Linked DNA regions of Homo sapiens: region 2 is linked to region 1. The links come from fine-mapping of genetic effects on gene expression. Tissue or cell type: lung. Region 1 holds a variant in brackets; the other region holds the start of a gene. All regions are shown on one strand. Distances are from middle to middle.

Region 1 (11,702 bases):
TATGTGCCACATTTTCTTTATCCAGTCTACAATTGATGGGCATTTGGGTTGGTTCCAAGTCTTTGCTATTGTGAACAGTGCCACAATAAACATACGTGTGCATGTATTTATAGTAGAATGATTTATAATCCTTTGAGTATATACCCAGTAATGAGATTGCTGGGTCAAATGGTATTTCTGGTTCTAGATCCTTGAGAAATCACCACACTGTCTTCCACAATGGTTGAACTCATTTACACTCCCACCAACAGCGTAAAAGCATTCCTATTTCTCCACATCCTCTCCAGCATCTGTTGTTTCCTGACTTTTTAATGATCGCCATTCTAACTGGCAGATTGATCATTAAGAAGCATAATTTGCAGGTGAGAATTTCTGGCAAGATGGTTTTTTGGTCTTTTGTTTTGTTTTGGAAGCTGGTGGAAGAGCGACCTGTGTGCCCACGAATGGGTATTATAAGCAATCGGCTATTTGACAAGGCTTTAATATAGACATCAAGAAGCACACCCACCTAAAATGGCCGATAAACAATTGGAAATCATTTGGTTGCATTATATACTCACCTCAGGAAAAGATAACTGTGTCTTACTTTAATGGGGGACCAAGTAGGATTCATATGTTTTTAGAAAAAAATATGTAAATAAGTATATACACCTACTATGTGCCCACAGAAATTAAAACTCAAAAAAGAAAAAATCATAAGTAAGTAGGTGCAAAAGTGGACAACTTTTGGACTTAGACTTGAAATCAGAAGATCAGGCTTGAATTCCAGATCTAACTCATAATGGGCATGAAATTTTCAATAATATAATTTACGACTAATTTTCTTATATATTTAAATATCTTGTAAAGATAAAAATGAGGCAAGTAAGATGTTTTTGAACTGGAAAGCATTCAGACAAAGCATATTGTTGTATGTTATTATAATAATATATAGTTGTGTGTGTGTGTGCGGGGAGATATTGTAGAGACTTCCACTCAGAGCAAGTCTTATATATGTTTTATACACTCCTACACACACCATTTCTTAAACCCTTCTGCATTGAAAAGCCTTCTTCTTAGGGACATTATCTCCTTCCTCTCCCAATGTGATTTCAGGGAAAGTTGGTATATTACCTGTCCCTGCCTCCTAACAACAAGTGATTGGTCCAGACCTTGGAAACTGACCCAAGTCTGGACAAACAGAATATTCCTTAAAAATTTATGAACTAGATTAGAAAATAGACATAGTTCTTCTTTGACTGTAGAAATATGAAAATGTATAATATAATAGCTACATTTCTCATCCAGTAGAAGTAGCCCATCCACAGTGAGAGAATAAACCAGGTAGGAAAAGAGAAGCTGGATTACAGAAAAAGCAAGTGAAAGAGAAGAGAGCATAAGAGAATGTGAGGACATGAGAGAGTGATCTGGCAGTCTTCACTCTGTCATTTTAGTTGTTTCTAAGCTGGGTTGCATCTCTGCTCTGTCCACTCTTCATAGTTCAACCTGAGATAGCCCAGTATCCTTGTGATGAATTTCTCCCTTACTTTAAGCTAGTTTGGTTTTGACCATTTGCAAGCTAAGGGGTTGACACAGGCTGAGTTGCTTAGGAAGCAAACTCTGAGATGATGATTGGCATGCAGAACATTTGCTCAGGTGTGTTGTTGGGATCAACTTCTGTGAAGGGAAGGGAAGACAGCAGGATTGGATAGAAGGAGAAGTTGAGATGTAATGCAATCTCAATGAAGACCTCAGCTGACCTGAAAGACAGCCTGGAAGCTGGAATGGCCTTAGAGGTCTGTTCTAATTTGGGGCAGGAGATGTTTTCCCCTGACATTCAGCAGTCATTAAATGTAAGCCATGCTAGAAAGAGTGTGTAACTTATGGTGAGACATTTTTCTGCAACAAAGGCAATCACTGAAGTGGGGTGGCAGTTGAGGGTCATTCCCTGGCCATACTACCAGCAGCTGGGGGAGTAAACTCTCCCTTCCTGAACTGGGGATCTGGGTGGCCCATTACAGAATCCCCATAGTCCAACTCAAATCCTTTCTATCTGCATGGGTTTCAGGTCTACAGAAAAAAACACAAGTTCACCTGCAGGACTTGTGAATGTATCTTTAAAGTTAACTTAAAGTACTCCAAAAGTAGTTACTAAAATTGAATGCTTCTTGAATTCTATGTTATTTCATCATCATATAAGCTGTTTCATTTTCTTTATCGAATTTCAAAGCAGAGTTTTCAAGTCTTCAAGTCTTGTTCTGGATCAGAATACTCTGTGGAGCTTGTTAAAAATACAGACATATGGGCTGCACTTTGGAGTGACTGAAACAGAAGTTCCTGAGTAGAGCCTGGGAAATCATATTTTTAAAAGCATATAAATGGCACAGGCCTTTTGAAAGGCAAGATCAACTCCGAGATATTAGTCGTAAGCTGCAGCTTCCATTGGTTTATTATTCTTTAAACTACTTAAAAAGAAACAAGCTATTCAAATGTACAGCTTATTACAATGCAATTAGTGACTAAAATAGGCACCAAATTCAATGTCAACAAGTAACCTATGATTCACTGGCCCTTGCACTGACATGATAAACTAGGACCCTGTGTCTCCCAAGCTCTCAGAATAATCCTAGGAGCAATTGTGCTTTTGGCCATGTTTTTCTCCTTCCTGCCTTCTGTTTTCTTGGCCTTTCCACTGGGCAGTTGCTTTAGTTGGCAGCTGTCACATATTGCTTTCACTTCCATGAGATGTCATTTACAATAGGCATGATAACCATTTCTACTCTTGAGGACAACAGTCTTCTCCAAACTTTGCCACCGCAAAGGGGCACCACTACTGCTTGCTTTCCTGGGAATCAGCAGGGCCATCTCAGCTAAATACTATTGCCTATTCCACTGGGTGCTGCTGGTGATGCACTGGGCAAATGCAGGGCAAATAGATTCTGGCACTCTACAATAAATTGGGGGGAAAAGGTACTCTCATTTTTTTTTCCATTAAAGATAAAATCAGGTATATTTGAGTGAAATATATCTTTTACTTTTGACTTTCTGCCTTCTCCAGAATTCAAACAAGGACAGTATCAGAAACAATTCTGAGTGACAGTATGTTGTACTCAAAAATCTTCCCCTACTCAAATTCAGAAATCTGTTACTAGATGTGTGTGTCTACCTGTCCTGTGTTTTAGAATTAGCTTCTCTTGGAAGTTCCTTAGTCCTTTAAATAGTTAGGTTTCCAAAGGTCTGTTTGATAAGTTGACCAAATATACATGTTGATATGGTTTGGCTGTGTCCCCACCCAAATCTCATCTTAAATTGTAGCTCCCATAATTTCCATGTGCCATGGGAGGGACCCAGTGGGAGATAATGGAATCATGGGGACAGGTTTTTCCCATGCTGTTCTCATGATAGTGAATAAATCTCATGAGATCTGATAGTTTTATAAAGGGGAGTTCCCCTGCACATGCTCTCTTGCTTATCACCATGTAAGATGTGACTTTGCTCATTCTCCTTTGCCATAATTGTGAGGCCTCCCCAACCATGTGGAACTGTGAATCAATTAAACCTCTTTCCTTTATAAATTTCTCATCCAAAATATATATAAAACTCAGGCCAGATGCAGTGGCTCATGCCTGTAATCCTAGCCCTTTGGGAGGTTGAGGTGGGCAGATCACTTGAGGTCAGGAGTTCAAAACCAGCCGGGCCAACATGGAGAAACCCCATGTCTACTAAAAATATAAAACAATTAGCCAGGTATGGTGGTGGGCATCTGTAATCTCAGCTACTTGGGAGATGAGGCAGGAGAATCGCTTGAACCTGGGCGGCGGAGGTTGCAGTGAGCTGAGATTGTGCCGCTGCACTCCAGCCTGGGCAACAGAGTGAAACTCCATCAAAAACAAAACAAAACAAAACCAAAAAACCCAAAAAACTCAATATGCAACAGTAAGGAAACATAGAAATCAATTTTTAAAATGGGCAAAAGCTTGGACACTTACCAAGAAGGTTATAAGGATGGCAAAGCAGCATATTAAAAATGTTCAACATCATTAGCCATAAGTGAAATGCAAAGTTAAGCATTAATGAAATACCACTGCACACTTATTAGAATGCAGAAAATAAAAAATACTGACAACACCAAGTGCTGACGAGGATGTAGAGCAACTAAAACTCTCATACATTGCTGGTGGTAGTGAAAAATGGTACAGCTATTACATAAAATGGTTTGACAGTTTCTCATCAAGTTAAACATGTAGTTATGACTCAGCAACTCTGATTTTTTGGGAAAAGAAAGCTTTCGTTCAAACAAAAACCTCCACGCAGATGTTAATATAGTAGCTCTCTTCATAATATATTCCCAAAACTGGAGACAGTGCAAAAGTCCTTCAGTGAGTAATGGAGGAAGAAACTATGATACCTCAGTACAATGAAACACTACTCAGCAATAAAAAAGAACAAACTATTGATTCAGATCAGAATTTGAATTAATTTCAAGTGCATTATAATGGGAAAAAGAAGTTAGTCTCAAAAGGTTGCATATCACATGATTCCATTTATATGAAATTCCCAGAAAGATAAAAGAAATGGACAGGAGATCAGTGGTTGCCAAAGATTAGGGGAATGGAGTGCTGTGATTATAAAGAAATGACACCAGGGAGTCTGAGGTGATAGAAGGAACTCTTTTCATATCCTGATAATGGTGGTAGTTATTTGAATCTATAAAAGTATCAAAATTCAAAGACCTGTACAAGAAAGTCTGTGACTATATGATAATTTAAAAAGCAAAATTAACATTTTTTAAATCCCATGCTTACAACTTACAAAGATCTGGATGAGTTTGTCAGGTTCTAGCTATAAGGAGCTTATACAATAACATTAGAGGTATTTTCTCTTGCTCGACCTTACAGTTAAAAATCTAACCAGGCCTCTATGTCTCCATGTGTTAAATCTATATGTTAAACATTGTTTGTGTAAGCTATATTTTCTTCCCTTTACCTGTGTTGGCTTCATTTTGAAAAGCTCTCCCTATAAGATGACAATAACTTCAGGTTTATGTTTGCCCTACAAGCAAAAAGAAATTATCTCTGGCCAGGTGTGGTGGCTCATGCCTGTAATCCCAGCACTTTGGGAGGCTGAGGCGGGTGGATCACCTGAGGTCAGGTGTTTGAGACCAACCTGGCCAACATGGTGAAACCTCGTCTCTCCTAAAAATAAAAAATAAAAAATAAATAAAAAATCAGCCGGGCGTGGTGGCACGCTTCTGTAGTCCCAGCTACTCGGGAGGCTGGGCTGAGGCAGGAGAATCACTTGAACCCGGGAGGCAGAGGTTGCAGTGAGCCGAGATTGCACCATTGCACTCCAGGCCAGGCAATAGAGCAAGATTCAGTAAAAAAAAAAAAAAAAAAAAAAAAAAAAAAAAAGAAAGAAAGAAAGAAAAGAAAAGAAAAAGAAAAAAAGAAATTATGTCTTTCTCAATAGCTTCAGAGTTCTCTGGGAGGAAACAATTTTCTTTGGCAAAGCTATGACCCATGCCCATTCCTCAATGTAACATTTGGCAAGGAGATAGAGCTTTCTCTTTGTCTAGGCATCCGTTTTATGTCCACTGTTGAGCCAGCCCCATTCATTTCCAGGCAAGAATGAAGTAAATGAGGTTGACCAAAGGCATGCTGGACAGACATAAAACATATGTCATCTCTCTTGGACTTAGTGCTGGGGAAGACACTTAACTTTTCTTTGTCTCAATTTGACCACGCAAAAAGGTAGTAGTAATCATACTTTCTTCAAGCAATGACAACATCTATCCACAAGTAAGCTGGATTGCAAACTGGCTGCTTTATTTCTCCCGGTCATCATCATAGGGTGTTAGAGATGGTTAAAATGAATGAAGCAACAGTGCCATAGTATCTACATTTCATGCCTATAAAAATCACAAGATGCTAGTAATGAAAGGGTTCATGAAGAGTCACCTGCCTCAGTCGTCTGATTTCAGGAAAAGTTATACTTGCACATTTCTAGGAAGAAGAAAAAAAATACATGTTTATGATTTTCATGGCATAGTATTCTATGATAACTCTTGGTAATGTTTTACCACCTTGATTCCATTCTTAGGAATCTCAGAAATGTCTTAAACTCAACTAGTCTTTCATGTTATTGCTTATATGAAATAACATGAAAACTCACATCCCATTTTTATATCTTTATTAATTTTTTAAAAAGGAAAAATATAGCTGGTCACTCTATTTTTAAATATCTTCATATATGGTACTTGAAAATGTTATTGTCATAAATTCCTCCACCAATCATTTGTTCTCCATACGCTAAACTCTTGATCCACTAAATTTTCTTTACAAGTTGCATTTTTTTAACACTTTGAATATATATATTTTAACTCTTCAAAATTTCTGAACAATCTCTTTCAGGGCAGCAGAAATCTGAGCTCTACCCATTTTTTCAGTAACAACTAAAAACTCCAGAAATGTCTTCAGAAGACGAAAGGAAGCATGTATCTGGAGAAAAGGTTATTCCAGGATTCTGAGGGAGTCCCAACACTTTCCAGACCATCTGGCTGAAATCTAATTGCTAATGAAATGAACAGATTTTTTTTTTATCCACAAGTATA[G/A]CCTGAAGGGGAATTAAGCCAGGATTTTCGAGAATGCCTGGCACAAAAGAGCTGTTGTCAAAGAAAGCTAAAAAGGATAGTGATAATGATAGTACATTAAACCATACAAAATATATATTTTCATTTGCTTTTGGAGAAGAGAGTTAGGGCTGCTTGTATAATGAATTATTATTACCCACTAAGTCAGCTGCACTAATTAGAATCAATTTAATTTCTCAAATCTATTATAAAAAATGAATACTAGCCAGGACTCAGATTTTTTTTTTCCTGAAAAAAACTGATACTGTAGCTTTAATTGTGCATGGAACTGAAAAGGTTGTCATGGAGATGGGAATCTGTGATAGGCCTGCTCCACTTCGCTGGCCTTGTTCTGAGCCTGAAGTGGAAGGTTCTATTGTTAGAGTAGGTTTTCAATTTCTTGCAATAAAACCTGTGTTTAGATTTTTTTCAGTGCAGTTTTGTTCCTGCTGCTATCTTTTGTTTCATGAAAACAGTGAGAGTGCTTATAATGACAATAATGAGACCATTTTAGAATATTCTATTTGTGATTGTTGGGGAGCACACAAAATGGTGTCCAACAAACTCTGATAGTCACTGCAGGCTCCTGCAATAGTTTGGAAACGTTTGCCACCTAGTGGCGGCAATTGAGAAATGCTGAGAGATAGTAAACATTGTTACCTTTTGGCTAGTAGGAAGCAGAAAGAAGAGTATAACTACCTCTATAAAGAGATTCTTCATTTCTTTTTTTCCTTAAGATATAGAACAATTCCGATTTCCCATCCTTATTTCGTTATTTAAAAAATAATATTTTAATGGTATTTGCTTATTTCATTTAAATATTGAAATTACGGACATAACATTGTTTATATCTTTCTATTATATTTTAACAATTATAAAATCTAAAGTAATATCCTGGCTTTTATTTCTGACTTTTTTGACTTCTCTTTTTTTCTTGACCTTGGGGTTTATAAATTGTGTTTTATTTTTGAAGGACCAACTTTTGGTCTTCTTTATTAATTTTATGTTTGTTTTCTCTTCATTGGGCTTCTGCCTGTGTCATCTTTTTCTTCAACTTTCGTTGGATTAATTTGCTTTTCTCATTGCTTCTTCAGATAGATATGTAGAGTGTTGATATTCAATATTCTTTTCTAACATATGCACATAAGCCTGCACATTTTACCTAAGCATAACTTTAGTTATGTATTTTGATATGTCAACCATGTTATCATTTATTTCCAAACATTTATTTCCAAACATTTTCTAATTTTCATTGTGATTACTTGTTTTCGCAACCGTGTTTTAACACCTATATACATGATAGCAATTATTAAGGTTTTTTTCTGTTTATCTTTTTGTTACTGCTTTCTAGTTTAATTCTACTTTCTGCAGAGAATAGAACCTCCTCTGAGATTTAAAATAAACAGATCCATCAAACAAATTATTATTTAATAGACTTCTGGCCACTATTTACACCTGGTGCTTCTCTTCATGCTGTTGCTTGGAATACCTTTAAGGATCAGCTAACATGTCAATTACCCAATAAAATATTGGCCAATTCCTTCTTTTGATATTTCCTTAATCACAATTAATTTCTCCTTCTATTGTGCTCCCACAGCCTTTTGTTCTTACTGCTATTACAATACCGCTTCCATTGCATTATATCTAGAGGTAAGCGTGTGTGTGCGTTTAGCCATCTTTTGCCAGATTAAGAATTTCCTTGAGAGAAAAATGCTTTATTACTTTTTTATTCCTCTGTACCTACATTACTAGCAGGGGTGTGGTAGGCTTCCCATAAATATTTACAAAATTAATGAATTGTCTGCCTTTTACTTTTCAGCCCCTCCTGAACCATTCTGCTTCCCGTTACCTTTATTCTTTTTATTCCTCCTCATTAGGATGGTGTCCCCTGCTACAGGGCCTTTGCAAATGGTTTCGTCTGCCTGGAATAACATTCTTTCCTTCCCTTTTTCACCTGGTTAACACGGACTCATCCTCTGGTTCTCAGTTCAGATATCTCCCTTTGAAGGAAGTTTTAACCCAGTCCCTGACCAGGAAATTCTCCTTATTATACACTTTCATTGTATAATATTGTTATTCTTAGTGTTCATAACATTTTTAAATTTTTCCACAAAAATAATTATAAAAGAGAAGTTATAAAATCAATCTGAAAAAAATTTAACCTTATTTAAAAAAAAACACAGACCAAAACTATTTGAAGGGAAAAATCCTCATTTGAATACTTGAGTTATTGCAAAAATAATCTCCCCTTAGCCTATATATACATTGAAAACACTCCGTTATGTCTCTTGGTGGAATTTTCACAGTCTGTCTTCAGTCAGTAAATGCACAAACAACCCTGAGCACATGTGTGGGTCATTATAGTGAAGAAAACACAGGCTTCAGATTCAGATCTGGTTTCCAATAGTATGGCTATTTCAAACCGTGAGATCTTGATCTTAGAATTTCGATTTCTTCATCTGTTAAATGGGTTTAACAAAAATCGTTTTATAGGACAGTTGGAAATATTAGCACACCCTTATTTTTTTTAAATCATCCTTGTTAATTCTTGCTAACCAAAATGTGCTAGGAAAGCAAAAATAAATAAGATATCGTCCTGGAACTCAAGTAGACTCGTGACGGAGTTCAATACATAAATCAATGATTATTACGATGAGAGATAACCCTGAGAGGTATGGATAATCCAGGACCGTGGACAGGTGGGCAGTGTGGTTAAGCAGGGATGGGTCCCCCAGTGCTGTCAGTGGGGGTAGGAATAAGCAGATGGTGTTGCCAATCTTCTCTTATATTAGAGGCATATTGGCTAATACATGTTCTAGCACACTGGTGGGGCAAAACCTTGTATCTTTCCAGACACTGGGCGCACGATTTAGGGCATATCTTTTAATCTCTATGTGCCTCAGTTTTGTCCTCTGTGATGATAGTAGTAGCTAAAACTTACAAAGCACTTACTAGGTGCCCGACACTCTTCTAATTGCTTTATGTATCTTAATTCCCTTAATCCTTACAACAACCGCATTTTACAGAAAAGGAACCAAGGACTGATAAAGTTAAATACCAAGTATCTTGCCCAAAGTCAAAGAAATAATTCAAATGGCAGAGCTGGGATTCAAACTCAGGCAATCTTATCTCCAAAGTTTCATGCTGAACCGTAACTGACTCTCTATAGTGCAATGAATAATAATAATGGCTACATATCCAGCACTAACCACATGGCCTGCACACAGGAAGCATTCCATCGATTTTGGCTTTGATTACTATTAGTTAACTCTTTAATTTAAAGTATTTTTTAAAAATTTAATTATCCAGGAAATATTTCAAAATCTTGTTTCTCTGGTTTTTACCAATAGATGTAAGCAGATTACTAATCATGGGCAATATTTTTGACTTTCAAGAGCCCTCTTGTGGAAAAGTATAATAATCCAGGACAGCATTTTTATTTATCTAAGGATTGTCATATATGTGAAAAGAAATCCTAAATGTAAAGAAAATTCATTATTTTTTCAATCTGGCATCACACTTGGTTTCACTGAATGTAGGAAATATATTATTGATGACTCACATTATGAAATTAAGTAGGTAAAACATTGCAGTGCTGTAAAAAATTAAAAAGCAATTCCACAGAAAAATTGAAATCCATTTTGTAAGTAACCGCAGAGCAAACTGCATGGCTTAACAAATAGTTCCTATTAACTTTTAAAATTGTCAGAAAAATTCTAAGTTAAAACATTACAGGTAAAAATCTACTTATCTAAAGAAAATAATTACAACATTAGCATTTAGTATGAAGCGATAGTATTCTTTTCTTTTGTGTCATTTATTCATTTTAAAACAAGTTTGACTAAGGAATTAAACTTGAATAAGTAATAACCCTGAATATGTTTAAATATGCTATAGTGTTTAAAAGGTTCTTAGAGCAATTGAAGATAAGAACTGATTAAATATTAGTGTCTAGATGAATCATTTATTAGATGACTCTATTGTGAGAATTAATGCATGCCTTTTACCCAGGAGAAAATATTCCCCTGGCAATGAGTATTTATTTGTCTCTAATGTTCCCTGGTTTGTTATTGCAGAAATGTGTATCACAGTGACTTTATCTCTACTTTCATTTATAAAATGATGCCGCTATCTGCTCTGAAAGCAGGGAGACAGCTGCACTTTCTAACTCATGTTTCTGAATCATAATGAGTGGTCCTAGCCATGTGCTTTTTTCTTGTGTTTTTTTTTCTTCTCATCTCCACTCTAAAAATAGAGATGATATGAAAAACCTGCAGTTCTTTCCAAATGAAATTTTATGTGGTCAAAGGATCTTTTAAATACAAGCTTACTATTTAAGTAATTTTCAAACCTCATCAATTTAATTTATTAGGAAGAGCTCAATGTTAACTTCTAATTTTCTTCCAACAAAGATATTTACTGAGCATCTATACTGTTATTCAGGTAATGTACTAATGTTTTATGGCCATTATCTCTTATTATCTTTACAATAAAAAGACACCATCAATCAGGGTAGTTAAGTTTCTCAAGTTCCTAGAAAAAGTAAATGCAAAGCTGAGACTGGAACCCACACCTGTCTGACTTAGTGGTTTCCCAGCTATTTGTCAATGGCTTCCTTAATGCCTTAGAGACCAGGAAGCATCTCGGGTGCTTCCAAGTTTTGGGGAAAGATGTGAGAAGTGTCTGAGCAGGTATAACTTGGGTTTTCAGCATGTTGCAGAGAAATTTTTTAATGTTTCACATTTTGAGGTTCTCTGAAATATTTCATTTGCAGAAGAGTAAAAGAGTTCTGCAACTAAAAACAAGATGAATACCACTCTAACTACATATACTTCTCTCTTAATTTCTATTTCTCTGAATAGGGAGGGTAGAAGTTCCCTTCAGTGACTTTATTTCCTATCACCACCATCCCCCTTTTCCATCTTCCTGGCTTTCACTACAGGTTTTCTCTTGAGTTCTGATTTAGCTTGCTTTAGTATAACATACCCAAGTATATTACAGCTCTGAAGCTCTACCCATGTTTCTCTTCCAGCTACACTTGAGATGCAAGCTAGAGAATGAAGAGGTAGGGCCTAATAGGAAGAGGAACCCACAC
Region 2 (5,000 bases), 83 kb before region 1:
TTAGTGCATTCTCACCAGCTTCAAAATGAGTCATTTCAAAGGAGCGTGATAGTGCATGTGGTCAAACCCTTAAATAATTTTTATACTAATGCAGTCTCCCATTTTCTGGAGGCTCTTTAGTGGTTCATCATGCATTTAATTTTTAGGAAGATAATTTGCAATCCAATTGTGTGGCTCTGTCTTTGAAGTCTGTTAACCCCAAGATACAGTGTCATCAATGCTCATTTAAACTCCATGAATTGTGTTCAAGTAATTGTTCTACAGCTTGCCCTGCTAAGGAATTCATAGAGGGTATCTGAATAGGCCAAAGTAAAAGTAATGAATCTGGGCTATTTCCACTCATGGAAAAGAAGTAACAATTGTGAGATGTCTGTTCCTAAACACACAATTCAATTGCATTATGAGGCACTTGTACTTTTAAAATTCTTGCTTAAGGGACATGTACTCCGGTTAAAGATGCCTCAAAAGCGCCCACGTACATTCTGTAAAGGCACATCCTTAATTCTCTGGTTTGCCTCCTCTTTCATGAGGGCATTTTCCTTGAAGCCATATAGCTGCAACCCACATGTAGTCAGCTTCTAGCTGACCTCAGGTGTGTTCCTTCCTGGAGATGGAACTCAGCCATTAACTGATTTCTCCTAGACAAATGTCATTGATTCAGACACAAATGAAATCACTATAATACAAAACTACACGGATTAGCCATGCGACAAGTGGTCTGATGGATTGAACTTGAAGGCAGGTATCTCATCTTTCTATTCCTTCACCATTTTCATCATGGAATCTTCTGCTACCTACATTTTTCTTGAGAAAGCTCTTTATTATCTTTCAACAAAAATTACCTAAACCATGTTCCCAAAAATCTCTTGTGAAAAGAGAAAGGATAATAAATGGATTCATTATTTTAAATACATAGATTTTTTTTTCTTCTTTTCTATGGTTCATGAATGCAGGGGTCACCCATCATTTCTCTGAAAGTTATGCAAGTCACATACATCTTTCTTGAAACTGAAATTATTTAAAAAATCTATGACACTTCTACAAAACTTCCAAATATATTGTTACCTATAAGAACAGTCCGACAATGTCTCTTCTCCCAAGTTTCAAGGCAGTGACTATTCCTCAGGACAGATAAGCCTTACAATCATTGAATACAGAATCTACTGTTTGCACTTCGAAGGGCTAAACCTCCATATTTGGCTGAAAAGATGGCCAGAGAAGGATATTTATGATTCAGCAACAGTCTTATAATTCTCTATGCAACCCAGACTCTAACTAAACAGAATATAGTTTTGTGCCTAAAACCATCTGATTTCCCTAAATCTATGCAATACAACCCTTCAGTATCTGTAATTTAATAAACCTCTTGCTTAAAAATGTCTTCCTAATGCAATGGAGCACAGTACACGGAATCACTGTATCTGCCAATCTTTATAACACTCCTATGAATTGTTTCTCCCTCAAATACTGCATTTTGGTAAGTTAGAGGGTCATTACGGATACATCTGCATTTAATTGTTTATCTATAATACTGCTCAGCACAGTAAATACTCAGATACAAATCATGTAAAATCAGATGATGTCATAGATTTAAAATATTATATATAGTTATGTATACACACATATATAATATGTATTTTTTACTGTGGAAAGAGGCCAGTACATTGATGATTGATGTTTAGAGATGCAGATCCAATTTCAGAAGCGTATGTGAGCACCAAAATAATATAATAGGAGAAGGATTTGGGGGGGGGGGGCAGGAGCAATAAAAGCAATTAACAATATTTGTACTATGTAAACACCTTCAACCCTCATATGCCCTAGGCATAGCTGTGTGCACACGGAGTTCCCGACACGTACTCGGCAGGTTGAAGACACAAATCCCGAAATATGGGCATCATGGCCCCTCTGGGGCACTAGCGGACGTTGTGCACACAGGCACTACAGGAGGGCCAAGGAACTAAAACCACACTCACTCACACAGGTATCCGTTCCCTGCAGGCCACCCAGCAGCGACACCTCTAATGGTAATCACCCCGGGCTGACAGGTATTCACAGGCACATTCGGGGAGCTGCTGTGAAATCTAGGGGAAGAGGGGAGGGTCGGGCATTTGGGGACAGCCGCGCGCGCCCGGCAGGATCTCTGCGCCTCCAACACTGTCCAGGACCTGAATTCGCTCAGGAGATGCCCAGAGGATCTGCATTATGCCAAGGCACTGGGCCAACTCACCTCGACGAAATAAAAGCAGGGCAGGAGGGTGACGCTGTCCTTGATCACTTTGCCCTTTGGCCTCTCCTTCGCCGACATCCCTGCCGCCTGCCCGGGTCTGCGTCCTCCCCCGGGCGAGGTGTGCACAGCGCAGCTGAGGCGAGCTGCCTCCTCCAGCCCCAAGCGCCCGGCGCCGCTGATGTCACATTCCCCGCGGCCACCGCTGGAGCCAGCGCGCTGCATGCAGCGCCCCCGCCTTCTCCCCGCCCCTTTTTGCAGCAACCCAGCTATTCCCTGAGCGGGCCAGTCCTCTTCCTCCCCTAGTCTGGCTCCTGCTCCCCGTTTTTCTGGCGAGAGACGACGTCCAGCTCCCTCCTCCAAGCTGTTGCTGCAATGGCTTCCCCTCCCTGTCACCCTCCCTCAGCTCTCTACCGCCCTTGCGACGCTCCAAGGCTGTCGGAGCTTGACGTCAAGAATCCGAAAAGGAGGACGCACTCCTGGTTTCTGCAGTAGTTAGGCTGAGGAGCTAAGCCACCTAGTCTCCTCCTGGGGAGCCTCCTAGGTCACTCTAGGAATGCTATTAAAGAATGCTAAGGATCAGAAGCCCTGCTCCAGCGCGCTGACCCATAGCAAGAAAACCAACCCCTACCTCCACGAAATGAGATCTTGGATCCCATACTGAAAAGTAGGCTGAGGTAGGCATTAACTGACAGCTTGTTGCTACCCAGGAATGACAGCTCCTACGGGGGATTCTCTGCCTAGGAGACTCCTTATCTCCCTTCCATATCGAAGCACCCACTAACAAACACTACCGGTTGTGTGGGAATGATGTGGGTTCCTTGCATCCAGAGAGGCAGATGTGTGAATGCACAGGTAATGGGCATCCTCATTGAGCCCAGAGGCTACTGTATGTTCTAATCTCACTGTCACACCCCCAGAACAGTGTCAGTATTGCAATCATAACAGTAAAAAGAAGTATGTCTTCAGATATTAATAATCTAAAGTCCTTCATCTTGTTGGCAGTATACATGGCTAGTCTCAATTTTGTGATTACTTTGGCAACCAGAAGTATCAAGTTGATATAGAAGAGAGAAAGACCCAGCAAACACGAGACATGATATTATACTAATAAAGATGACCTAATTTTGTGATCACATGTCCCAGGCCATTTCCAATATCTCCAAGTCTCCATTTCAAGCATGTGATGGCCAATTCCCAACTCATTTATCCATTTCCCTTTTTTAGTTGCTCCTCCAATAGGTCTTTGGCAGTATGGGACCATCCTATCTAATAATATACTCATTTCACTGCCAACACCACCTCTTGCCCCCACTTTCTTCTGCCAGGCTTGGGTTCCAAAGTCTAGCAATATAATTGCTTGTTTCCGCCTCCCAATTTGCCATACTCACCTGATAATATCCCGGCTTAGTTGAACCCAATTCTCTGCCCTTACCAGAGCAACTGAAAGTGGCTGGAGAAAAACACACAACCGCATGATGCTGTCTCACATCCAACTCATGACCACAAACTCCAAGTAGGTCCTGGAGTTGCCCCCACGATTCTATAATTTTTTCTGTCCAGCCATTTTCCCATTCACAACTTCTCACTTCTCAAATCTCCTCATTCTCAGTTCATGACATTAACTCTTATTTCACTTAGAAAATAGAAGTAATCAGAAGAGAACTACATCTTCTTCCTAAACTCAGTGCTTGCCCTCACCCCCCACCACACACAGCGACCGCCATCTCTTGCCTAGACTGGAATAACCTAACGGCCTTCTAACTGTTCTACCAGCTTTTGCATTTGCCATTCCCACAACCTACAAACCATTCCCTACGCAGCAGCCAGAAAGGTCCTTTGGAAAGTAAACCCAATTGTTTTATTCCCCTACCCAAACCCTCCAAGAGCTCTCTTCCACTTCAATGGAAAGTCCAAACTTCCCGTCTCTTCCTTAAAGCCCTGCCTGGCCACCTTGCCTGGTTCTAGGACCTCATTCACATCACTTTGCACCTCAATGGTCTGGCCGTTCCAGCCTAGCCTTTCACTGCCTCAGGAGCTTTGTACTTACTGTTCCTTTGTCCAAGAACTCTGTTCCGCCAAAATTGCATGGCTTAACCCCTCATTTAATTCATATCTCTGCACAAATTTTAACTCCTCAGGGAAGTTGTGTTTGATGCACCGAGTAGATTCATAATCTCAGACCTCTGTTACTCTTTATTCTTTTATACTATTTTATTTTCCTTCATAGAATTTGTCACCATTTGATAGTATATCAAGTATTTCTGTGTCCTTTTTTATCTTGTCTGCCTCACCCACTAGTGAACTCTGTAAAGTCAAGCACATTTTCATTATTATGTTTTCTGGTAACTACAAGTGTGCCTGGCAAAGAGTAGGTTGTCAGTACATAGTGAAGAAATAAATGGAACAATAAAATTAAGTGATGCTTATATAACCGTATAGCATAGTTTTTCACATAGTATATGTTCATTAAGTGCTTGTTGATTCTGTTTAACTATTACATTAATCAGTAGTTATACTTTTCATTACTACCAATGTTACTTTGTCTTGTGGAGGGGGTGGGTACTGGAGCCCTTTCTTTTTTCAACCTTCTTGGTACCTCAAGAAAATTTACAATTTTTGGTGAGGTAAAAAATAAGCTAGAACATATTAAACTTAAGAGAGATGTTATCATCCTGGAAACTCAGTGTTTTTATTTGAGAAGAGGTGAAATATAAGACTAAACCTATACCCACCTAATTTCAATAGCAAAAAAACCTGAAGGTATGTGATA

The links. PIP is the estimated chance that this variant, and not a neighbour inherited with it, causes the effect.
Region 2: PLPPR4 starts here. The variant in region 1 is fine-mapped to the expression of PLPPR4 in lung (TOPMed, PIP 0.98).

The regions. Positions count from the first base shown.
Region 1 is chr1:99,175,977-99,187,678 of GRCh38, reverse strand. No RefSeq gene overlaps it. Among named protein-coding and RNA genes, the nearest start is that of PLPPR4, 83 kb to the left of the region's middle. RefSeq lists a silencer at 3,629-3,796. The variant G/A (reference allele first, on the strand shown) is at 6,590.
Region 2 is chr1:99,261,902-99,266,901 of GRCh38, reverse strand. It overlaps PLPPR4 (phospholipid phosphatase related 4), which reads right to left and starts at 2,410. Exons shown (of 7, transcript NM_014839.5): 1 at 2,231-2,410. The coding sequence starts at 2,308.